Regions from separate parts of the Homo sapiens genome. Here all the other regions are reported to be linked to region 4. The links are microRNA targets in miRTarBase. Many come from high-throughput screens and were not tested one by one. Region 4 holds a microRNA gene; each other region holds the end of a gene's coding sequence. Distances are from middle to middle.
What was found. Region 4 holds the annotated microRNA hsa-miR-3119 (UGGCUUUUAACUUUGAUGGC, at 1,576-1,595, shown strand). A microRNA usually pairs through its seed, bases 2 to 8, with sites in the 3' UTR of a target mRNA and lowers its output. Matches are read on the target gene's strand: a 7mer-m8 pairs with bases 2 to 8, a 7mer-A1 pairs with bases 2 to 7 and ends in A, and an 8mer does both.

Region 1 (4,792 bases), not on the chromosome of region 4:
AAAAGATTTACCCTTTACTCTCTTTACTCCCCTAGGCTATGGGTACACAACGCCACTGACTGATGCGGGCAAGGCCTTCTCCATCGCCTTTGCGCTCCTGGGCGTGCCGACCACCATGCTGCTGCTGACCGCCTCAGCCCAGCGCCTGTCACTGCTGCTGACTCACGTGCCCCTGTCTTGGCTGAGCATGCGTTGGGGCTGGGACCCCCGGCGGGCGGCCTGCTGGCACTTGGTGGCCCTGTTGGGGGTCGTAGTGACCGTCTGCTTTCTGGTGCCGGCTGTGATCTTTGCCCACCTCGAGGAGGCCTGGAGCTTCTTGGATGCCTTCTACTTCTGCTTTATCTCTCTGTCCACCATCGGCCTGGGCGACTACGTGCCCGGGGAGGCCCCTGGCCAGCCCTACCGGGCCCTCTACAAGGTGCTGGTCACAGGTGAGCTGGGTGGCTAGGGCAGGGCTTTGAGGAGGACCTAGCCCTGTCCCTGGGGGAGTTAAAGGCTCACAGTCCCACTCTGGGACTTCCAAAAGGGATCCAACCCCACCCTGCAGGGTCCAGTAGAACTGCGGCCCCGCCTGGAAAATCTGAGCCCCAGGATGACCAACGCCCCTTCTCCGCCTTTACAGTCTACCTCTTCCTGGGCCTGGTGGCCATGGTGCTGGTGCTGCAGACCTTCCGCCACGTGTCCGACCTCCACGGCCTCACGGAGCTCATCCTGCTGCCCCCTCCGTGCCCTGCCAGTTTCAATGCGGATGAGGACGATCGGGTGGACATCCTGGGCCCCCAGCCGGAGTCGCACCAGCAACTCTCTGCCAGCTCCCACACCGACTACGCTTCCATCCCCAGGTAGCTGGGGCAGCCTCTGCCAGGCTTGGGTGTGCCTGGCCTGGGACTGAGGGGTCCAGGCGACCAGAGCTGGCTGTACAGGAATGTCCACGAGCACAGCAGGTGATCTTGAGGCCTTGCCGTCCACCGTCTCTCCTTTGTTTCCCAGCATCTGGCTGGGATGTGAAGGGCAGCACTCCCTGTCCCCATGTCCCGGGCTCCACTGGGCACCAACATAACCTTGTTCTCTGTCCTTTCTCTCATCCTCTTTACACTGTGTCTCTCTGGCTCTCTGGCATTCTCGCTGCCTCTGTCTTTCCCTCTTGCTGTCTCTGTTTCTCATTCTCTTTCATGTTCCGTCTGTGTCTCTCAATTAACCACTCGTCAACTGCTGATTCTACTGGGCTGTGGGCTCAGACCTCATTTCAGGCACCAGATTGGTCGCTACACCCTGGACAAGTGACTGCCCGTCTCTGAGCCTTGATTTCCTCAGCTGCCAAATGGGAAGAATAGAAGAATTTGCCCCTAAACCCCTCCTGTGTGCTGGCCCTGTGCTAGACAGTGCTGGAGACATAGTTGGGGGTGGAGAACTGCCCTTATGGAGCTTGCAGTCCAGTGAGGTGGACAGACCTGTCCCCAGACAGTGATGGCCCAAAATGGTCAGGACTTTAATGGAGGAGGTGAGGTGTTGAAAGCACAGGCAGAGTGGTCAGGGCTGAAGTCGGAGAAGCATAGGGACTAGGCCCAATCCAGCCTGGAAAGTCAGGGAGGACTTCCTAGAGGAAGGGACATCGAACTAAGACCTGAACTATGAGAAATAGGCAGGAAGAAGTTGTACCTGACTCATTTTTCTCAGGTGTCTCCAGGGAGCAGGACCCATGGAGGGACCCCTGGTGTAGGCCTGGGCGATAGACTCTTCCTCAGCAGCCTGGCAGGCAGGAAACAGACATAGGACCCCAGCCCAGATCTGAATGGCATGGGAGGTGCTGCCCTTAACCATGACACCATTGTAAGAGCTGTCCACATTTGTATGTTGTGCCCTGGAATCAGCCTGGTTGAGCTCAAATCCCAACTTAGCCACGTCTGGCCTGTGTCCTTGGGCAGTCACACTACCTCTCTGATTTTGTTTCCTTATCTGTAAAATGGTGATCATCATAATACAACTTCAAAAGGATTTCAGGCTGAGTGTGGTGGCTCACGCCTATACACCCAGCACTTTGGAAGGCTGAGGAAGGAGGATCGCTTGAGGCCAGGAGTTTGAGACTAGCCTAGGCAACACAGTGAGGCCTTATCTCAACAACAACCACAAAATCTAAAAATTAGCTGGGTGTGGTGGTGCATGCCTGTGATCCTGGCTACTTCAGAGGCTGAGGTGGAAGGATCACTTGAGGCCAGGAGTTTGAGGCTGCAGTGAGTTATGATGGCACTGCTGCACTCCAGCCTGCGGGACAGAGTGAGACCCTGTCTGAAAGAAAGAGAGAAAGAAAGAAAGAAAGAGAGAGAAAGAAAGAAAGAAAGAAAGGGAAAGATGGAAGGAAGGAAGGAAAAAGAAAGAGAAAGAGAGAGAGAGAGAAAGAAAAAGAAAGAAAAGTAAGAAAGAAAAAAGAAAAAGAAAGAAAAGTAAGAAAGAAAAAAAGAAAAAGAAAGAAAGTAAGTCCTGGCTAACACGGTGAAACCCTGTCTCTACTAAAAATACAAAAAATTAGCCAGGCGAGGTGGCAGGCGCCTGTAGTCCCAGCTACTCGGGAGGCTGAGGCAGGAGAATGGCGTGAACCCCGGTGGGGGCGGAGCCTGCAATGAGCCGAGATCGCGCCACTGCATCCAACCTGGGTGACAGCAAGACTCCGTCTCAAAAAAAAAAAAGAAAGAAAGAAAAGAAAAGAAGGAAAGAAGCGGGGCACAGTGGCTCAGTCCTGTAATCCCAGCACCTTGGGAAGGCCAAGGTGGGAAGATCACTTGAGGCTAGGAGTTTGAGACAAGCCTGGCCAACATAGCAAGACCCCATCTCTACAAAAATAAAAATTTTAAAAAGGGCTGGGGCATTTGAGCTGGGTCCCAACAGTAGACAAGTAGAAAAGGCATGGAGAGGGCATACCAGGTGGGAGGAGCTGTGTGCAAAGGCCTGGAGATGGAAAAGCATGCTGGCCACCAGCTTCTGACAAGCAGTTTAGTATGAACGGTATGCAGGGAAAGAGGGAAGGAGGGCAGAGGGGTGCGCACGAGCACCCGTTAGTGTCCTTAAATGACCAGCATGGGAACCTGGTCTCTTTCCTGAGGGCCCTAGAGAGCCATGGAAGGGTTTAGAGTAGGAGTGGGTCATGGTTAGGTTTGGGTTTTAGGATGATCCCCCTAGTTGCTCTGGAGAGGTGGAGCAGAGCGGGTACTGAGGCTGGGTGCCTGTGGGAGGCTGAGGCAGGAATGAAGAGGGAGACGATGGGCCTGGGCTGAGCCATGGAAGGGAGGAGGGGTGAGTGCGGGCACACTCAGGAGCCAAGTGGACAGGCCATAGCCCCCACAGACTGGAGGGACGCGGCTAGGGAATGTCCCACAGAGTGGCCAGTTATCCCTGAGAGAAAGAGCAGGTTTTAGCGGAGACGCTGAGGCTGCTTTAGAATATGGTGGGTGTGTGGGGCAAAAGGGACACCCAGGGGTGTATCAAGAGGTCATAGGGGGCAGGCCAGGTGGCTCACGCCTGTAATCCCAGCACTTTGTGAGGCCGAGGCAGGTGGATCACCTGAGGTCAGGAGTTCAAGACCAGCCTGGCCAACATGGTGAAACCCCGTCTCTACTAAAAATACAAAAATTAGCTGGGTGTGGTGGCACATGCCTGTAGTCCCAGCTACTTGGGAGGCTGAGACAGAATTGCTTGAACCTGGGAGGTGGCGGCTGCAGTGGGCCGAGATCACACCACTGTACTCCAGCCTGGGCGAAACAGAGACTCTGTCTCAAAAAAAAAAAAAAAGTCATAGGGGCTGGGCATAGTGGCTCTCACCTATAATCCTAGCAAATCGTAGTACTTTGGGAGGCCGAGGCAGGAGGATTGCCTGAGCCCAGGGGTTCAAGACCAGCCTCAGCAACATAAAATACAAAAAATACAAAAATTAGCTGGGTTTGGTGGTGTGCACCTGTGGTCCCAGCTACTCAGGAGGCTGAAGTGGGAGGATCACTTGAGCCTGGGAGGTCAAGGCTGCAGTGAGCTGTGATTGCATCACTGTACTCCAGCTTGGGTGACAGAGCAAGACCCTGTCTCAAAAAAAAAAAAAGAAAAGAAAAAGAAAAAGAAAAAGAAAATATGTATATTGGATATACTATGTGCCAGGCACGATTCCAAGCCCCTGATACATTCTCTACATTTTACAGATGGGGGAAGGAGGTCCAGAGATGTTAAATACTTGCCCAAGGTCACACAGAAAGTGGAACACTGGGATTTGAACAAGGTTTTGGTTGGGCATCTTTTCCTATGGGAGCTCAGAAATATCTGTTGTCTAGCCCTTTCTCAGCCTCCCAACCTTCTCGGTTCCTTACCTATGTCACAGCTGACTTTGAGCTAAAGTCATCTCGGGGCAGCTAGGTGCCTATGTGAGCTGGCGTTCATTTCTCACTGTTTCTCCTTCCAAATACCTCCAGGAAGAAAAGCAAGTCCTTTTTGGTCCAAGACATTAAAAAAGCCAGGCTCAGCGGCTCATGCCTGTAATCCCAACACTTGGGGAGGCTGAGGCAGGAGGATCGCTTGAGCCCGGGAGCTGGAGACCAGCCTGGACATGTTAACATAGCAAGACCCCTCTACAGAAAATGTTAAAAATGAGCTGGGTGTGGTGGCGCACACCTGTAGTCCCAGTTACTCAGGAGGATGAGGCAGGAGGATCACTTGAGCCTAGGAGGTTGAGGCTGCAGTGAGCCATGATCACACTACTGGACTCCAGCCTGGGCCATAGAGCAAGACCCTGTCCTAGGAGAAAAAAAAGGGCCAG
Region 2 (4,792 bases), not on the chromosome of region 4:
TCCCTGTTCAATTTGATTTCTGAAATAAGCAGTTTTCTTTCTGTATGTGGAATTTTTTCTTCTGGAAGAAAACATATGGTGGATAGTTGTGAAATCCTTAAGGGACAAGTTCACCACAGCTCTCTCTGATCTCTTGATGATTCTGTGCAGTTTTCTTATCTGTAATTCAGAACCTGTGATCACTTCTTCCAATGTTTCAATTGCTCTCAAACCTATTTTCCCAGTTTGGTCAAGAAATAATGATATCTCAGAGTAGGGTGATGACAGTAAAGATGAAGAGAACTGAACATTAAGAGAAACATTTTGGTGATATAATCAAGGGGAATTGCTTATGGTCTAATGTAGGAGAGAAGAGATGCTCAAAAATGGTTTTTGGCTTAGGCAATTAGATGGTTTTACAGAAATAAGGGAAACTAGATGAACAATTGGTAATGACAGAAGGCAGCATTCTATTTGGCTATATTAAGTTTGCAGCGCCTATTAGATAACCATGTATATATATCAAATAAATAAATCTTTGAACTGAGAGAAAATGGTCTGCTTAGATGTCCTTCGGGAAGCCTTTTCTGAATGCCCTCTTCCCATCCCATTAAGCTCACTACCTTTGCTACCCACAGCGTCCTTCATCACTTTGATTGAAGCCTTTATAAAACTTATTTTGTAACTGTCTATTTATTGGTCCATTTCCTCTGTTGGACTGTGAGCTTTTTGAAAAACAATGTGTGTTCATTCTTTTTTCAGGTTCCTTCCTGGCACAATGCTGACAGTCAGCTCTTATTTGTTCAATGCATGCACACAAGACAGTAAATTCTATTTTTCTACAGCTCCAGTTTTTGAAAACTATTTTCCAGATTTGCCCAGTACTTGCCTCCCTGTATCTTCTACCCAGTTCAGGATTTATCTCTGAAGTTAGATACTTTTAACTTATTCCAAATATTCTCTTATATATTTGACTTAGACCATATGTGATTTTCATGTCTGGGTGAGCATATTAGTCTTTCAAACCAAGCACGTAATAAAATCCTCAACACTGTTTTCACATATAATATCTTAAATTATGCTTCCTCAAATATGTTTTTGTATTGAAATACCCAAATGTAGGATTTACTATTTATATCATTAAATTTCATCTTAGTGAGTTCAACACTTAATTCCAGAAGTGGAGATAATTTGGGATCCTACACATAAACATCTTGACTTACATATACTCTTACCTCTAAATGCTCAGAGGCAGAAGTTGGGAGCATAACAAATGTGCCAAAGTTGGGCTCCAGACCCTTTCCCCACCTTCAACCAGAACATTATGTATTTAGGTTAATGTAAAATTTGTTTTATGGTGAGGTTAACGTAAAATTTATTTTTGGCAAAAAATTGTCTTAAAATTTTTGAAAACCACTTTTCTAGAGCAAGTCACTGGTGCATGTCCCAAGACCGTAATCAATACTACATCCTTTTTGGTCTACTCAACACATCACCAATTTAAATGGTTTTGGTTTTTAAAGTTTGCATGACTTATCCACTATAGATTAAATATGGGTGGATAATTTTTATGAATCATTGTATCTATTTTTAAAAGATGAGAGTAATTTTGTATCTTAGGGAATATTTTTATAATATATAGTTTTGAGTCCTCTCCAACTTTAAATACAAGCTTCTATGAAAGAATTCGTCAATTTAACAGATGCTGGCAATTCAATTGATCTTATCTTGCACTTTGTGAAAAGGTGCTGCAGTTCTTGGTGTGCTCAAAAAAGATAACTGACCAATTTGTGCTTGGTGATTCGCAGTCTATGTATTCTACTCTAGTTCTTCTTTCCCCTCTCCTTTCACCAATACACCAAATGTATTTAAAATGGGGGATGATATTGTAGCATAAAATAATCTTACAACAACAGTCTCATGGAAGAAAAGTGGATTTGGGAAGCATCTAATTCCATTTAGGACTATTTACTCAACTAGGTATAAACCCAATCAATCATATTATGCTTCAGCTTACATTTACTATTTTATTTAAATTGCAAAGAACAGCTATTAAATGCCTTGCCCAAATGCAGACATGTCACCTATTAAATGCTTTGCCTAAATGTAGATATGTCACCATCTAAATTTATTTTGTTATCTTTAAAAAATAGAGACAGGATCTCACTATGTTGCCCAGGCAGTTCTTGAACTCATGGACTCAAGTGATTCTCCTGCCCCAGCCACCCAAAGTGCTGGGATTACAGGCATGAGCCACTGTGTGGAGCATACATTTGTTTTTTGATAGGATTAACACATGAAGAGAACACAAAGCCTACTTTTCATATTCCTAGTGATTCCAAGTTGGATTCTAATGGTATTCTCACAAGGTCACAGAGCAACTTGATGGTGCAACTGAGACCAGAATCCTGGAATTTAGATTCACAGGCCATTATTACACTGTCTACTATCCCATTGTGATCCTCAAATACTTAGTGGTACTGCTCATAAATAAAGGGAGCACCAGCGTAAAAAATTTGTCAAAATCAAACAATTCAAAGGTAACACCCTCTGGTCCTCTACCACTTACCAATTCTTCCTTCTTCGGTTTCAACCATTTAATTGGTCATATTTTCCTAACCTTAAACTGAGTTTGAGACTCAGTATCAGCCTCTGTGAGATAAGATATAGAAAATATAAAATTATTACAACTTCATAGTGTGATCTCCTCAGAGGTATTAAGTGCCAACTGTTTAATTATTGCCCCTCCAACTCCCAAAATAATAATTTTGGATGGGAAATGATCATTTACATAAAACAATATGTAGAAATTAAAACACTTTAATATAAACATTTCCAGAATATAGACTGACCTTATATCAGTACTTTTTGAGACCGTTTTAAAACTATATATCATCTAAGTTTATTATAGACTGTTTCATTTTCCACTTTCAGAACTAGAAAATGCAAAAATACACTGCAAATTAGATTTAACAAAGAAAAAATCAGTTTAAGTTATTTCATACATATTCCTTGGAGAAAGCTGAGACACATAAACACAGAAAAACAACAATAAAATACCACCAACACTAACACAAAACCAAGGAAAGAACTGATTTTGTAACGCTTGGTAATTCTGTCCTTTAAAATAAATTATCTCCCATGAATAAATAATTCACTATCACAGCAATTTGATGAGCAGAAGTAGAGACAACTTCATTTAGGGAAATTACATTATATGTGAGATATGTGAGAAACATTTAATAATTTTTTTTCTTTTTTAAGAAAATGAAGGAAAGTAACTTGAGGAAAAGGCATACTGAATACTTTTACTTCACTTGGCTTTTTTAGAGATTAAAGTAGCCATCCACCTAGAAAAATTACAATAACATGAATTTTATAAAACCAAACTTTTTTTCCTTCAACTTTGAAGGAACAAAACTAAAAAGTTGAAAATCCTAGAGTAGACTCATCCCAAATCACTGTCTCTTCTGTCTTTTCTTGAGTAGGTTTCTTTTTCTCTTAAGTTCTTGTGTTCTCATGTTAGTGTTGTTCAGAGGCTAGGTTTAGGCTTTTTTGTTGTTGTTTCTTCTTTCAATTAAATTTCAAGTTTTTTTAAATAGCTTTCCTGAAGTGACACTGACTGTATCTACCTCTCCTTTTCTTCATCTGATCCTCTTGCTTTTGTCTAAAGTCCATTTTCTTAGCTGATTTCCTCAATTAATCCTTGGGCAAACAAAACTAAAAGTTCAATACCCAAGAATAGACTCATTCCAAAACACAGATTCTTGTCTTTTCTGTAACAGGTTTCCTTTTCTCTTATGTTCTCCTTGAGTTCTTATGTTCTTTTCTCAGAGGTTAAGTTTGGGCTTTTTTTTTCCTTCTTTTAATTCAATTTAAATTTTTATACAAAAAAAACCTAAGTGTCCTGAAGTGACACTGACTGTATCTACCTCTCCTTTTCTTCATCAGGTGTTCCTTTTTCTAAATCCATATTGACTGTTTTTTTTTTTCAATTCAACCTTGGGTAAACAAAACTAAACATTCAAAATCCAAGAATAGACTCATCCCAAAGCATTTCCTCTTCTGTCCTTTCTTCAACAGATTTCTTTTTCTCTTTCCTGTGCTTACGTTCTTCTTTCTCGGAGGGTACATCATGGCTTTTTTTCTTTTTTCGATGCTTAAGCTTTCCTGAACTGACCTTGACTCTATCCTCCTCTCTTTTCCTTTGTCTGATGCTCTTGTCTTTGTCTAAATCTGTATCTTCATAACTCTTTTTCCTTTTATGCTTGGACTGCTCTTTCTCTGGCCTTTCTTTGCCTTCTTCTAGGTGTCGTTTTCTCTTCTGATGTTTCCGTTTATGACCTGCTTGATGGTCAGCAGTATTGTTTTCTGAAGAGAGGTGCTTGTAAACTTCAGATTCTACACTGTATGAGCCAGAGTTATTTTCTTGCTGATTAAGGCTCAAGGGTACTGGTTTTTCTGGGAAACAGTCTCTGGTGAGTTGACAGTAGCTAATAGAATCTAGTCTCTGTTTGCTATCATGAGCTGGTAAGCAATGAGGTAACTGGTTTTCCACTACTTGTGAAATACTATATGGTCCTGAATAGGTCTGGAAAGTCTCACATGGGAGCTTTTGCTCCAACATTCTATGTCTGGGTCTGACATCAACCATTTCTCTGTTCCTGTGTGTTTCTACAGAGCTATCTCCTATCTTTCTGAAACAAGTTTTTGGCTCTAGTCCTCTGGCTTTCTGCACTTTTATGTAATCTTCAAGTTCATCTTGGAAAGAATCATATGTCCTCTTTGAATGGGTTGGTAGCCACTGAGGTAA
Region 3 (4,792 bases), not on the chromosome of region 4:
GGTGACATTCTCTCCCATGACACCCAGAAGGGGCAGAAGAACCACATTTTTCATTTATAGATGTTTGCATCCTTTGTATTAAAATTATTTTGAAGGGGTTGCCTCATTGGATGGCTTTTTTTTTTTCCTCCAGGGAGAAGGGGAGAAATGTACTTGGAAATTAATGTATGTTTACATCTCTTTGCAAATTCCTGTACATAGAGATATATTTTTTAAGTGTGAATGTAACAACATACTGTGAATTCCATCTTGGTTACAAATGAGACTCCTTCAGTCAGTTATCCAAATAAAAGCAGTTCTGAAACTATCCCTTTCTTTGTTATGGGTGGAAGGTGGGGCTCCAGGCCTTCGCAGTCTGTGGCTTATAAAATGTGCAGAGGCCCTCCTTCCAGACCCTGGGGACGCGGGAGAGGCCTGGCTGCAGCTCACAGCAGCCACAGCCAACCCCACTGCCTCCCAAGGCACTCTGGGTGGATCCGCACAGCTGCCTGCCAAGCCAGCCTGCCCCCATCCTGTGCCTGCCTTGGTTTCCTTTGGAGGACCTGGTTGAGTTCCAAACCAGTTTGAAACTTTGAAGCCTTGCTGCGTAGAACGCACACAGGAACCCGGGGGCTTGGATTTGAAACCCTTTCCACTTCTGGCCTGTGATGAGACAGAGGCAGCTGGAGGAGCAGCGGCCTCACTGTCCACCTTGAGGGGCCACGGCTCTGTCTGTGGAAGGGGCCCCGACTGAGCCCCCATCTGCGGTGCTTGAGGGGCCTTGGCCCTGTCTCTGCCTGCTGACCCTGCCACCCACGACAGAAACAAGCACTGAGCACCCAGCCAGGAGGCTCACAAAGAGGCCTTTATTTATCTAGCTCAAAGTAGACACTATCACAATCTTGTTTGTTACTCCTTTTACTAAAATAGTTCAAATCAATGTTTTTACCACACTATCAAAAAGTTCTATTTCTTCTTGTCTCCCCACGTCAGAGTGGTTGAATAGAAGGTAGAAACAGGCCGGGAGTCCACGGGCTCCCAGCTCTAAACGGCGCCAGGGCAGGAAGGGGTGGCTCCAGGTCTCACTGTGGCACCTTCTACAGAAAATAGACGTAGCTGCCGGGCCCGGGGACAGAAACCAGACGTTCCAGTCCATCTCCAAAAAGCAGCACAAATACTTTGCCCCACAGTATGAAAAATATACACCTCTACCGCTCTGCAGTCATGCATTTAGTTTTAAGAAAAAAAAAAAATCAGTAGTATGTATCTTGTTTCCTCAAGTTTCAAGAAAAAAAAAATGAAAGGTCACTTTTTTCTCTTTAAACACTGATGTGTAGCTAGTAACTTGGATAAAAAGGTGCCACCCTACAAAATGTGCTCAGCATGTTCTGAGGCCAGGATGGGCTTGGCCACCTGGGCTGGGGCGAAAGGAGACCTCCATCTGTCACAGTGGAAACTGAAGCCGAGTGCCAGTGCCGCGTCCGGCTTCAAGATCAAGAGTCAGAGCCTTTGAAATGGAAAGGGGGCATCTGAAAGGGCACCCCCACTGGGGGCTTTCAGAGCTAAGGCTCCAGAAGGAAGGGGGTCGCCCTGCTAGTGACGGAGCTGGGAGTCACCCTGAGCTACAGCATGCCCAGATTTCCCCTGTGGGAAGCCCCATCTGACCTTCTACAGCCCACGGCTCTGCAACTGCCACCTGTACTCAGGTACATGGCGTCGCTGCTGCTGGCTTTTAAAATCAGCTATTAGTTTGAGATGTGACAGTCGCCGACAGGGTTCTGTCCTAGAAAGCCATCCCAGTGCCGTGTTGGCTCAGGGGTCACCAGCTTTGTGCTGCCTCCGTAACAGCAGGAGGGTTCTCAAAGCAATGTTCCACTGATCCCTGGATGCCACTGCAGCATTAAAGACAGGGTCAGTCCCCTTGAGGGGAAAGGTGGCTTCAAGGCTGTTCTCTGGGCCTGTTTGCAGGAGATCCGCAGGTACCAGGAGCCCGTACTTATTGCTTATTTCAGTGGTGGCCACGCCAACCTGACCCAAACATGATGCACACGGGCTCCCAGACTTGGCTGCCACTCAAAATGGACCCACAGCCCTTGGGCTACTCTGCGGTTCTTTGGACTGCAAGACCCAGAGGGGCCTCTGCTCAGCTGCCCACTCGGGCAAGAATCACTGGGTACCATGAGCAGCAGGTGTTCACCCAACTTCACGTGTACACCCCTAGTGACCGGGAGCGCACCACCTGACCGGGCGACACTCCTTCCCAAAGAGCCTCCTGGCAACACCCACGGCAGGAGCGCCACACCATCCCATCACCAGCACCCACTTACCCCCCTGGGGCTAAGATGGGGGGCGTGAGCCTTTCCCCTGAGAGCAAACGGGCAGCAAGAACTGCTCAGAATAGAGCCGCCAGCTAGGGAGAGGGACAGGGCGGCCATCTCCCTCCTCTTGCCTGCATCCCCAGCCCTGGGCCTGCATGAGACCTGCTGGGTAGGAAGACAGCCTCTCTGGGCTCTTCAGGTGGGGCTGAGCAGCCCCTGGAAGAGCACAGGAGTCTGACGAGGACCTGGTGAGGTCCTGGACCCAAGAGCTAGGGCTGCTTACAGTGGCATGAGCGGATGTGGGGAAGCGGCCTGTCCCCGTGCTGCAGCTGTGGGATCAAAATCCCTGTCATGTGCCACACATCACCCCCTCTAGGCCTTACTTTCCTCACACACACAGTTTTCTATTGCACTTTACAGTTTATACATGGTCATTTACACTGAAGATCTCACTTGATGCCAGAATCCTGTGAGGAGGGCCTTATGCTGCCCATTTTACTACTGAGGACACGGGCTCAGAGTGGGGAGGCAACTCTCCACCCGCAGCGACTGCAAGGCAGCAGAACTCAGCTCCACCCGGCCCGCCCTCAGCCGTCGGCTGTTGGCTCACGCCCCCTCAGTGAGGACCCCTGCCCTGTGGCGCTGGATGACCTGGAGCCATAAGCATGGCCGAAAAGGAACCTCAGAGACCTGTTTCCACCAAGAGCCCAGACAGGCTGAGTGAACTGCTAAAGGTCACACCACAAACTAAAGGCAGAACCTGGCCAGACACGCTCCTTCCCAAAAAGAACAGAACTCTCATCTGCAGCCTACACAGCTCTGTCCACAGGGACCCAAGATGCAGCCAGGCCCTGGGGGAGGTCACAGCCAACCAGAGCCCCAGCTGTGGCCCAGTGCTGCCCATCAGGAAAATCACATGTGGCTCAGCCCAGAAACTCTCCCCAGGCCCTTCCTGTTACTGGCCTGTCATGTAAACCACGAAAAGGGACGTGCCTCAGGCATGGGGCAGGAGGAGCCCAAGAAGGGCATAGCCTGGACAGGGTGGCAGGGGGACATTGCAGAGACTGGGGGGGAGGGGGATGACCTCCAAAAGCAAGGAGCAGCGGGCATCGGGTGGCTGAGCACAGATCCCCAGGTGTGAGGGCACCCTGACCTCCAAGGCTGAGGGTCACAGGAAGGGCCCAGGGCAGCCTCCAGCCAGCCACAGATGTGGTGAGTGGCCTTGTCCACATGCCGGGGACCCAGTGCTTGGGGGGCCTGGGGCCAGGCCACGGCATTTGGGCAAGAAGTGGTGCCACCTGCGTCAAGACCCAGGTAGTGGTGGTCTCTGTCCAGTGTGGGTGGCAGCCGGGGAGTAGAGGGTTTGATGAGTGGCCCCTCCATCCCAGGCAGGACAGAGGAGCCTGGACAGTTCCCAGGCTGGATCTCAGAAGCAGCCTGCAGCCTCTTGCTCATGGAGCCCAGGGCCCAGAGGGGGAATGAGGCGTCCGGGCCGCTCTGCTGCAGGAACAGTCGCAGCGTCTCGTCTTCCCAGGTTGCTGGTGTATGAGGCGGGAGATGGCGGCTTGGGCCAGTGCATCGGACCCATGGCAGCTGGGCCAGGGCGGGCAGCGTCCTATGTACAGTTCACCACAGAGGAAGAAGACAGGGGCTGGGCTGGAGGTCCTGCCCGTGTCTGGGGCCTGAAACTCCCCCTGGGGACCCCCAGCAGGGCCAGTCCACGTCCACAGAAGAGTGGCCCTACAAAGGCCCCTTGAACTGGTTCCCAGACAGGTGCTGCCGTATGGAGGGCTTGGAGCTGGCTGCATCTCCCAGCTTTCTCCAGACCACCTGTGGAGAGGAGAGAGATGTGAGTGGTGGGACTCACCCGCGTCCACCTGCCGCCTATGCACATCCGCCGCCTCATCACGGCAGAATCACCCACGTCCTCAGAGCCATGGGGCCAGGAGGGACACGGAGGCCACTGCAGGCCCAGAGACACCCACACCAGGTCTTTGCATGCCGCGCTAACTATCGGGCCTGAGCAGGTCACTGCTGGGGTGTGGCTCAGCCTTGCAGCTGTCCAGTGGGGTCCACAGGCCCCACTAGGTGATGCGGGGGAGGGGCTGCACAGTTCAGAGCCTCTCGCCCCCCCTTTAAGTCCTGGGTTCAGACCCTATGAAACTCCTTCCCCGATGGCTCCTGCAAGCACCCCCAAGGAGACCGCCGATGGTGCTCAGCTGGGTCGAGCACGGAGCTCTCCTGGGCAGCCCCAGCCTGGTGGGCTGGAGGGTTCCACCTGGACCTCCTGCTCTGAGCACCATCTGCCCAGCCAGCAGCCACAGGGGGCACCAGCAAGCTGAGAGGCCCGGGGGCCAGCACCCAGGGAACACCTGGGGTGAACAAACCAGTCCCGGGGGGGTGGGGGGCTCAAGCTCTATCCAGAACCCCAGGCACGGCACTCCTGGGGAGGGCGGATCTGCAGACACCAGGGGCCCTCTGGGAAGGGCAGGGGG
Region 4 (4,792 bases):
CAGGCCTCTTTTAAAGTCACCATGTAGCTTTCTCTAGAACAGGCATTACCAAAAACGATAAACTTAATTCAAAATATGAGAGTTTTCAGGCTGCAGTGAGTATTAATTATGTTTTTCAGTTTGGAAATAAAACTTAGCCAGAAGAGATGCTTCCTCTCCAGCTCTGCTGAGGTGTTTTAGAGTCAGCTTCCTCTACTCTTGATAATTTCAAGACTTCATAGAAATGAAAATAAAGTCCTTCTTTCAAAAAGGCTAGGAACTTCTCCTGTAGGGTCTGCACAGAGAGTTTGTTGTTTGGGGTAATTATATGGAAAGAACGGTGGCTAACCAGACTCTTTGATTCCTTCTTTCCTTCCTTCCTCCCTCCAACTGCCTAGATTAGGCAGCAGTCTCACTCCAGCACGATATGTGGTGACATTCAGTCATGGGGAAATTTGCTGAAACATCCCTGGCAAGCTTCAGAGATTCATGGAATAGCAAAGACATACATACTAAAAATCTCCAATGGAAGACTCAGCTATGCTGTTGAACATAACTGATCTTCAGAAAGAAGTGAGAACAAGCCTATCATTGTTCTCAGTGTTTTGCATATATTATCTCAGTTCATTTTTATAACATCTCTATTAGGTGTGCTGTTATTTTCCCCATATTATATTTGAAGAACTGACACCTAGATGAGTTAAGTAACTTGCCAAAGATCTTGTGGTGGTGAGTGGAGTAGCAGGATTAGAACCCAGGTGATCTAACTCCATGATCTTTTTTAAACCACTACATAATACAATGTAAATGAAAACTTAACTAATGTGGGCAGCAATATAAGTTTTACCATATTTTATGATTTAACAGGAATAGGGAACAAACATAGCCTATGAAGAGCATTCGCTTTCTGTTGAGATAATCAAGATAGGCAGGCCAGTAAATAGGTTTAAATAATCTAGTTATGCCAACCAAATTTCTGTTAGAAGCTTGGTGTGAACAAATTTTCAAAAAATGGCTATTCATGAACAAATAGGAAATAGAATGGGAAAACAAGTCAGTGGAAATCTCCAGTGTGTATACCAGTGCTCAAAGGGCTCAACTGGAGATGTTGGGACAACATCTCCATGTTTAGTAACAATCATTGAGGAATAACTTAACACTCAATGATTCTTCCAGTGCTATCCACATTTCTGAACACATAGAAGTCAATGAATATTCATTAATTATATTATTGAGCAAAAGTCTATTACTCCTAGACATTGTTAAAGGCTTAGCCCAACTTCATGTGTAGAACAATGGTTCTGTGTGGTTTAACAGAAAGACCAGAAGCTTTGCATTTGAATAGGCATGTGCTAGGACCTGGTTATGACGTTTCTTTTCTATGTGATATTAAGTTACCAAGTCTCTCTGATTCTCTTACTCATCTATAAAATGACGATTATAATTCTAGTCTTATATAATCATTGTGATAGTTAAAAGAGACAATGTGAAGAGGTGACTTGAAAGTACCTAGCATAATACCTGGCACATAGGAGGTATCCTCTCTTGCGTTGATCCCTTTTCAGAAGAATCAGTCTCTGAGGAGGAAATTAACTATGGCTTTTAACTTTGATGGCAAAGACATAGATTGTTTAGCTACCCCTTTGCCATCAAAGTTAAAAGCCAGAGTTAATAACAACATTTCCTAAAAAGCACTTGGAACTTCCAGAATAAAACTCACCATACAGCTATTGGTATTTTAAAAATTTATTTCATTCCTGTGGTAGGCATTGCTGCACAACTCATTGTACAATGATACATTTTCAAATGTTTATCATTACCTGTGCAATACAAATGCTGCAAGACCATTTTTCTCTTTCAAGCAATGAAGAAAATATAATTTTCTTTTTTATTTAGCAGACATATTTTTAGGTGCAGAGTATGAGAGGGATGATCTATAGGTTTTCTACTTAAATAGACCTAGGTTCAAGTCCCAGATCTATCACTCTCTAGCTGCTTAACCTTGGGAAATTTAGTTAATCTCTTAATGCCTTGGTTTCTTCTTCTGTAGAATGGATATATAATGTTTATCTCACATAGTCAGTTCGATATAAATGTTTTGCATAAGTATTACATATAAACATGTTTGATCATCTATAGTTACTATTTTTTAATTATTTGAGTATGCCTAATTGGGAGGACAGGTATTTCATAAATGATACCAAAGGTATGACTTATGTGTGCTTATGTCGGTTAATCCCTATAACCATTCAGCTCTTTCTTGTACCCATATATTATTTAAAGAACAAAAAGCTAGCTTTTATTCAATGAACATTCAAAGAAGGCCCATCAAGAAGTTAGCATAACATTAAGTGCTAGGATTACAAAAAAATAAAATATAGCCTTATCCTGAAGAGTTTAGTGTAGGAGAGAGACGTACACAAATACTTTTTAAAAATGTGGTATTAAAGTGGTAGAGACCACTATAAAATTCTACAGAGGTGCAAAGGAAGCATGGGGACTGCTGAGTCAAATCTCATCATGAAAAATCTGTCTTCAGTATCTCCCCTTGACTTCTGGCCTTCTCAGATTTGATAGTAGGTCAGATAGAGAGTTCAAGAAAGAAGAGAGTTAGGAAGACACTCAGCGAGTAGGTAGGGGATAGATCTCTTGCTGAATTTGAGAAAGTAGATTGTCTTTCCCCAATTTAGAAGTCAGGAAACACTAAACTAGCCCTCAGTTGAAAAGAAAAAAGCCCCACACAACTTTCAGAATAGGCAGCGCCCTATTTTAGAGATAAGAAACATCAGACACCTAAAGCCTATAGGGAGCAAATAAAACCTAGAGGGTTCCTCTGGGCAATCCAGAGACTTGGTAATGACAGCTTTCTAGTATCCTGGCACATTTAAACCTTGGATTTCACCAGAAACACTGATAAATCCCCCCCCCACCACCATTGTTGATGAAAAATATAATGAGGAGGGTAACATTTATTGAGCTTCTACTCTAAACCAAACACCATACTAGGTGTTTTCACATGCATTATCTCATTTAATAATCTCAACAAGTTGTATGATAGGTTTTGATATATTTGGGATATTTGTCTCATCCAAATCTCATGTTGAAATGTAATCCCCAGTGTTGGAGGTGGGGCCAGGTAGGAGGTGTTTGGGTCATGAAGATGGATCCCTCATGCCTTGGTGTTGTCCTTAAAATAATGAGTGAGTTCTCATGAGAGCTGGTTGTTTAAAATTGTGTGGCACTTCACCCCACCTTTTACTCCCACTCTTGCCATGTGATGTGCTTTTTCCTGCTTCACTTTTAGCTATGAGTAAAAGCTCCCTAAGGCCTCCCCAGAAGCTGAGCAGATGCCAGTGCCATGCTTCTTTTACAGCGTACAGAACTATTAGTCAATTAAATCTCTTTGTTTTATAAATTAAGCAGTCTCAGGTATTTCTTTATAGCAATGCAAGAATGGCCTAACATAGACAATTGGTACTGATGAGTAGAGCGTTGCTCCTGAAATGCCTGACATGTGGAAGCATCTGATACTTGAAAATGTGGAATTGACTTTGGAACTGGGTAATGGGAAGAGGTTGGAAGAATTTGGAGGGCTCAGAAGACAAGATGATGAGGAAAAGTTTGGAACTTCTAAGAGCTGTTAAATCATTGTGACCAAAATGCTGATAGTGACAAGGACAGTGAGGCCAGAATGCTGAGATCTCAGATGGAAATAAGAAACTTATTGGGAGGTGGAGCAAAGATCACCCTTGTTATGCTTTAGCAAAGAGCTTAGTTGCATTGTATCCATGTCCTAGGGATCTCTGGAAGATTGAACTTAAGAGTGATGACTTAGCATATCTGGTGGAATAAATTTCTAAACAGCAAAACATGCAAGATGTGGCCTGGCTGCTTCTAACAGCTTAACCAGGATTTGGAAGCGAGAAATGACTTAAAGTTGGAAGTTATATTTAAAGGTGAAGCACAGCATAAAAGTTGAAAATTTGCAGCCTAGCCATGTGGCAAAGAAAGCTTTTTCAGAGTAAGAATTAAAGTAGATTGTGAAACAACCACTTGCTAGAGAGATTTGCATGACTAAAAGTGAGCCAGGTGCTAATAGCCAAGATGATGGGGAAAAGGTCTGGAAGGCATTTCAGAGATCTAAGAGACAGCCCCTCTCATCACAGACCCAGTAGTGTAGGAAAACTGGTTTCAGGGGACCAGGCCCAGGGCCCTGCTACCCTGTGTAGCCTCAGAGCACTGTTCTCCATATCCCACTCCAGCTCTAGCTGTGGCTCAAAGGGACCCAGGTACAGCTGAGGCATCTGCTCTGAAGGGCAGAAGTTGTAAGTCTGTTGGCTTCCACATGGTGTTAAGCCTGTGGGTTCACAGAGTGCAAGAGTAGTGGAGGCTGCCAAGCATCTGGATTTCAGAGAATGTATGGGCAATCCTGGGCACCCAAGCAGAAGCCTGTTGCAAAGGTGGAGCCCCCCACACTGAGATAACCTTTACTAGTGTGGAGGAGAAATGTGGGGTGAAGTCCCACACAGAGTCCCCACTGGGGGCACTGCCTAGTGGAGCTATCAGAAGGGGGTCAACTGCCTCCAGACCTGGGAATGGCAGACCCACCTGCAGTTTACAACCTCAGTATGGACTAGCCCAGGAGGGGAGCTGCCCAAGACCTTGGAAGTCCACACCTCAGTGTGCCCAAATGCGGGGCATGGAGTCAAGGATTATTTTGGAGCTTTAAGACTTAAGGACTGCCCTGCTGGCTGGGGTTCAAGCTTGTGAGGGACCTTTAACCCCTTTCCTTTGGCCTATTTCTCCCTTTTGG
Region 5 (4,000 bases), 110 Mb from region 4:
GTAATAATAAAACTCTGTTCTTCTGCACAGCCAGCTCCGCATGAAATTACTCTTTCTCTATCGCAGTTCCCCAGTATTGATAAATCGGCTCTGTCTAGGCAACCGGCAAGGTGAACTCACTAGGCAGTTATGGCAGTACTCTTCTGCCTGGCACACTCACCTCTCATTCCGCTTCCTTTTCTGCCTAACATCCAGTAATCTTTAAGTTCATTGGCCCTTTCTCCAGGAAGCCTCCCTTGACTTTCTAAGGCCAGCTCTGGTGCCCTTTAGTGGTACCTCTCTGGGCTTCCTTCTGACCTTCTATGTGTTTTCCCTAGTGGATGATGAGGCAAGAGACTGAACTGGACTCACTGTGATGTCTCTAGTGCTGGGAACAGTGTCAGGCACCTGGCCGGTTTATAAATATATACATATACATTTGAGACAGAGTCTCGCTCTGTTGCCTAGGCTGGAGTGCAGTGGCATGATCTTGGCTCACCGCAACCTCTGCCTCCCGGGTTCAAGCAATTCTCCAGCCTCAGCCTCCTGAGTAGCTGGGATTGCAGGCGCACACCACCACACCTCGCTAGTTTTTAAAAATATTTTTGGTGAAGACAGGGTTTCATCATGTTGTCCAGGCTGGTCTCTAACTCCTGACCTCAAGTGATCTGCCCGCCTCAGCACCCCAATCAATAGATATTTTTAAATGAATTTTAGAGCTGAGGGACAGTGACAGGAAGGCAGGCTGTGCTTGTTCATCTCACCACACTCTGAGCTCAGACATTCCAAAGGAAAGAAATGGTTATAAAGGATGAGATCATATGCTCATGTCCAAAACTCAAGATTAAAATAAAATTATTAAAAATCTCAGAAAGGATGGACAGTCTTTTGATAGTGATGAATAAGTAATCTTCAAGCTCTAGGAAACCCAGTTTGCTTTTCCTGGTAAATAAGTTGTTTTTAATATGATTTCATTTTTTTAAAGTGACCCAATGAAAATTGCCACCTAATATGAGATGCAGAAATAAATCCTAAACAGGCAACACAGGACACAGACCCCATACTGCTGTCTGCAGAGACAATAGGAAATAAGACCCGCACTGCAAATTCCCAAGAACCAAGAGCAAAGATATGCAAAGAAATTTTGAGACAGAAGACTGAGAGGCAGCATTTTAATATAACAAACAATAAGGATAGGCCAGAGGCTTGCTACTCAAAGTGTGGTTGTGGCTCGATAGCATCAGCATCTCCCAGGACCTGGTTAGAAATGCAGAATCTCAGGCCCCACCCCAGACCTACTGCCTTCTAACAAGATCCCAGGTGATTTGTATGCACATAAATGTTCGCGAAGCACCGGGCTAGAACATTTATTAACGTAGGATGTTGCTCTTACAATGTATTTTGAGGTCAAAATAAACTCATTTAAAGCATTTTTTTTCTCATTATTTGCTCCATTCTCTCCACCTCTGAGTTGCATCAACACATGTCATTGTGTTCTGGGACTCTGAGCCTCTCTTATGAATCACAATGGCAAAAGAAGTTTGCTGTACCATTGCTGTAGATGGCCTTAATGGGTTACAAATTGGATTTTTTTTTTTTTTTTTTTTGAGACAGAGTTTTGCTCGTTACCCAGGCTGGAGTGCAATGGCACGATCTCGGCTCACTGAAACCTCCGCCTCCCGGGTTCAAGTGAGTCTCCTGCCTCAGCCTCCCAAGTAGCTGGAATTACAGGCGCCTGCCACCACGCCCCAGCTAATTTTTGTATTTTTGGTAGAGACGGGGTTTCTCCATGTATGTCAGGCTGGTCTCAAACTCCCGACCTCAGGTGATCCACCTGCCTCGGCCTCCCAAAGTGCTGGGATTACAGGCGTGAACCACCGCGCTCGGCCACAAATTGGATTTTGAAACTTCCATCAGCTGCTTCTTGTGCAGCACCTCCCAGGAGGTAGGTTGTATGACAATTTCTGTTTTTAGAGATGATGAAATTGCGGCCCAAGGAGGTTTCATGACTCACCACAGGGGCACCCAGCAAATTGGCATCTGAGCCAAAATGAGAGTGCAAGCTTTTGAGTTTCCAATGTAAAGCTCATCAAACTTTGACATTACTTCTTTTTATATAAGGGGCTTTTTTTTTTTTTTTTTGCATAAGAGATTTTAAGAGAGCAGATTTAAGAAAGATTCAGATGACTTCACGTGAGCTACTGACCATATAAACCTTGCATGTGCTGGCCCCAGGGAATATGGAAGCTTCGGAAGGTATTGCTCTGCCCTGCCTGGGTCCCTTGCTCCTATTGCAGCCAGAAGTCCCAAAAAACCTCAGAACAGATATTTGCTTCTAGGGGATATGAGGGGAAAGCACCGGGAATTACCATGAGGTAATGGATACGGCTATGCAGGTGGCTTCTTGATGACAATAACCCATCCTCAGGAGGAAGCTTTTTTTTGTTTCTTCCACAGACTCAAAATAGCTGAGAGAATCTGACTCTGCCCAAATACATGTGGTGTGTGTCATTGGATTGAATTTCTTTTTTTTCTTTATTACATAGCAACTTACTAGATAATAAATTTCTTAATTAATTCCAATTTCCCTGGAGCAAATTGGAGCCACTAGATGACTCAGAAATAGTCAAGACTGTACATATGGCATTGATGCCAAAGTGCTTCTTCTACCCTGTCAGATTTTAAGATTTCTCTGTCAACCCCATCGAAACAAAGCTCCCAAATGGTGCTTGTTCAGTTTCACCAGTCTGCACGGTGATTCTTCTAGGGTCCCCTACAGAATGCTTGCCAGGGGGTTGGCTTAAATCCCCTCCCATCTATAGACATGCATATCAATGGGACATATTTGTATACACTTGCTTAAAAAACAGAAAGATAGTGCACTGTAAAATTCCATGTAAAAAGTATTGCTTTTCTAATGTGCTAATGTGCTCCTGCCTGCCTGCTTGCTACACAATGTTACAGAGGGTAGAGTCATGAGGAATTCAAGGCTGAAGATGTTTTGGATGTTTGGATGACACCGACGTACCCCTCACCTTGCACCTTGAACCCTGCTCTGAAGCCCGTGTAGTTTTCAGGCTTGGCCTAAGGCAAAAACTACAAAGCATCCTAATGAGCAGAATTATACAACAGGAATGTATGTGCATATTTGACATAGTTTCTTCTCTAGAAGGGTGGCTCTCTGGCCTGTGACCTCTGCCCTCTTCAAGGGCGAGGGAGGAGTCCAGAGAAGAAGGCTTTTGTTCCCCACGGCCAGTTCTTCTGCAGCCCCTACAGCCCCAGGGACCTGCCCTGCTCCGCGTGGGCTCTCAGAAGCCCAGCAATTTCCATATGGGTGGGTGACTTCAGAGCGATGGACAAAGCTGTGCGGCCAGCCTACAGGAGAAAAAGGAAAGAAGAAATAAATATCATCCAATCTGCCTCCTGCCTGGGGGAGAAGGGCAAGTTGGGAGTAGAGGGTATGCCTGGGACACAGGTGTCTATTAAGGCTTCCAGAGACCTCGGTAGAGAAGATTCGAATGGCATGAGGATCACCAGAAATGCGGTCCCTTCCACAGAAACAATAGTGACTCCTGGGAAATCTGTGACAACAGAAATAAAGAAGGGCCATCTAGTTTTTAATGCTCTTTTTTTTTTTTTTTGAGATGGAGTCTCACTCTATCGCCCAGGGTGGAGTGCAGTGGCGCAATCGGAGCTCACTGCAACCTCCGTCTCCTGGGCTCAGGTGATCCTCCACCTTCAGCCTCCCAAGTAGCTGGGATTACAGGTACACACCATCATGCCTGGAAAATTTTTGTATCTTTTGTAGAGACGGGGTGTCACCATGTTGCCCAGGCTGGTCTCAAACTCCTGGGCTGAAGTGGTCCGCCCACCTTGGCCTCCCAAACTGCTGGGATTATAGGTGTGAGCTACTGAGCCCAGCCCCACTTTTTTCTACTTTAAATTGGAAAACAGGAAATAAAATAACTCTTGCTGTTCCATTACATGTATCTAAGTGAAAGTTCGCATTTTGGTGTGTTTT

Region 1: the mRNA of KCNK6 is a reported target of hsa-miR-3119. Seed matches in the 3' UTR shown: 8mer at 4,485-4,492.
Region 2: miRTarBase lists ZMAT1 as a target of hsa-miR-3119. Seed matches in the 3' UTR shown: 7mer-m8 at 3,826-3,832, 7mer-m8 at 3,528-3,534 and 8mer at 3,298-3,305.
Region 3: miRTarBase lists CCDC85C as a target of hsa-miR-3119. Seed matches in the 3' UTR shown: 8mer at 1,706-1,713 and 8mer at 112-119.
Region 5: the mRNA of KANK4 is a reported target of hsa-miR-3119. Seed matches in the 3' UTR shown: 7mer-m8 at 3,214-3,220 and 7mer-m8 at 2,102-2,108.

The regions. Positions count from the first base shown.
Region 1 is chr19:38,326,558-38,331,349 of GRCh38, forward strand. KCNK6 (potassium two pore domain channel subfamily K member 6) reads left to right here. Exons shown (of 3, transcript NM_004823.3): 2 at 36-431; 3 at 623-4,792. The coding sequence ends at 846. Among named protein-coding and RNA genes, the nearest start is that of CATSPERG, 6.9 kb to the right of the region's middle.
Region 2 is chrX:101,879,507-101,884,298 of GRCh38, forward strand. It overlaps ZMAT1 (zinc finger matrin-type 1), which reads right to left. Exons shown (of 6, transcript NM_001394560.1): 6 at 2,784-4,792. The coding sequence ends at 4,004. Among named protein-coding and RNA genes, the nearest start is that of ZMAT1, 50 kb to the right of the region's middle.
Region 3 is chr14:99,511,209-99,516,000 of GRCh38, forward strand. CCDC85C (coiled-coil domain containing 85C) reads right to left here. Exons shown (of 6, transcript NM_001144995.2): 6 at 1-4,127. The coding sequence ends at 4,038. CCNK (cyclin K) reads left to right here. Exons shown (of 11, transcript NM_001099402.2): 11 at 1-1,232. Among named protein-coding and RNA genes, the nearest start is that of CCNK, 32 kb to the left of the region's middle. RefSeq lists enhancers at 96-597, 598-1,097, 1,098-2,098.
Region 4 is chr1:170,149,811-170,154,602 of GRCh38, forward strand. MIR3119-2 (microRNA 3119-2) reads left to right here and starts at 1,568; the gene lies at 1,568-1,652. All of the region lies in intron 1 of NTMT2 (N-terminal Xaa-Pro-Lys N-methyltransferase 2), which reads left to right. It overlaps MIR3119-1 (microRNA 3119-1), which reads right to left and starts at 1,652; the gene lies at 1,568-1,652.
Region 5 is chr1:62,235,028-62,239,027 of GRCh38, forward strand. KANK4 (KN motif and ankyrin repeat domains 4) reads right to left here. Exons shown (of 10, transcript NM_181712.5): 10 at 1,138-3,354. The coding sequence ends at 3,250. Among named protein-coding and RNA genes, the nearest start is that of L1TD1, 42 kb to the left of the region's middle.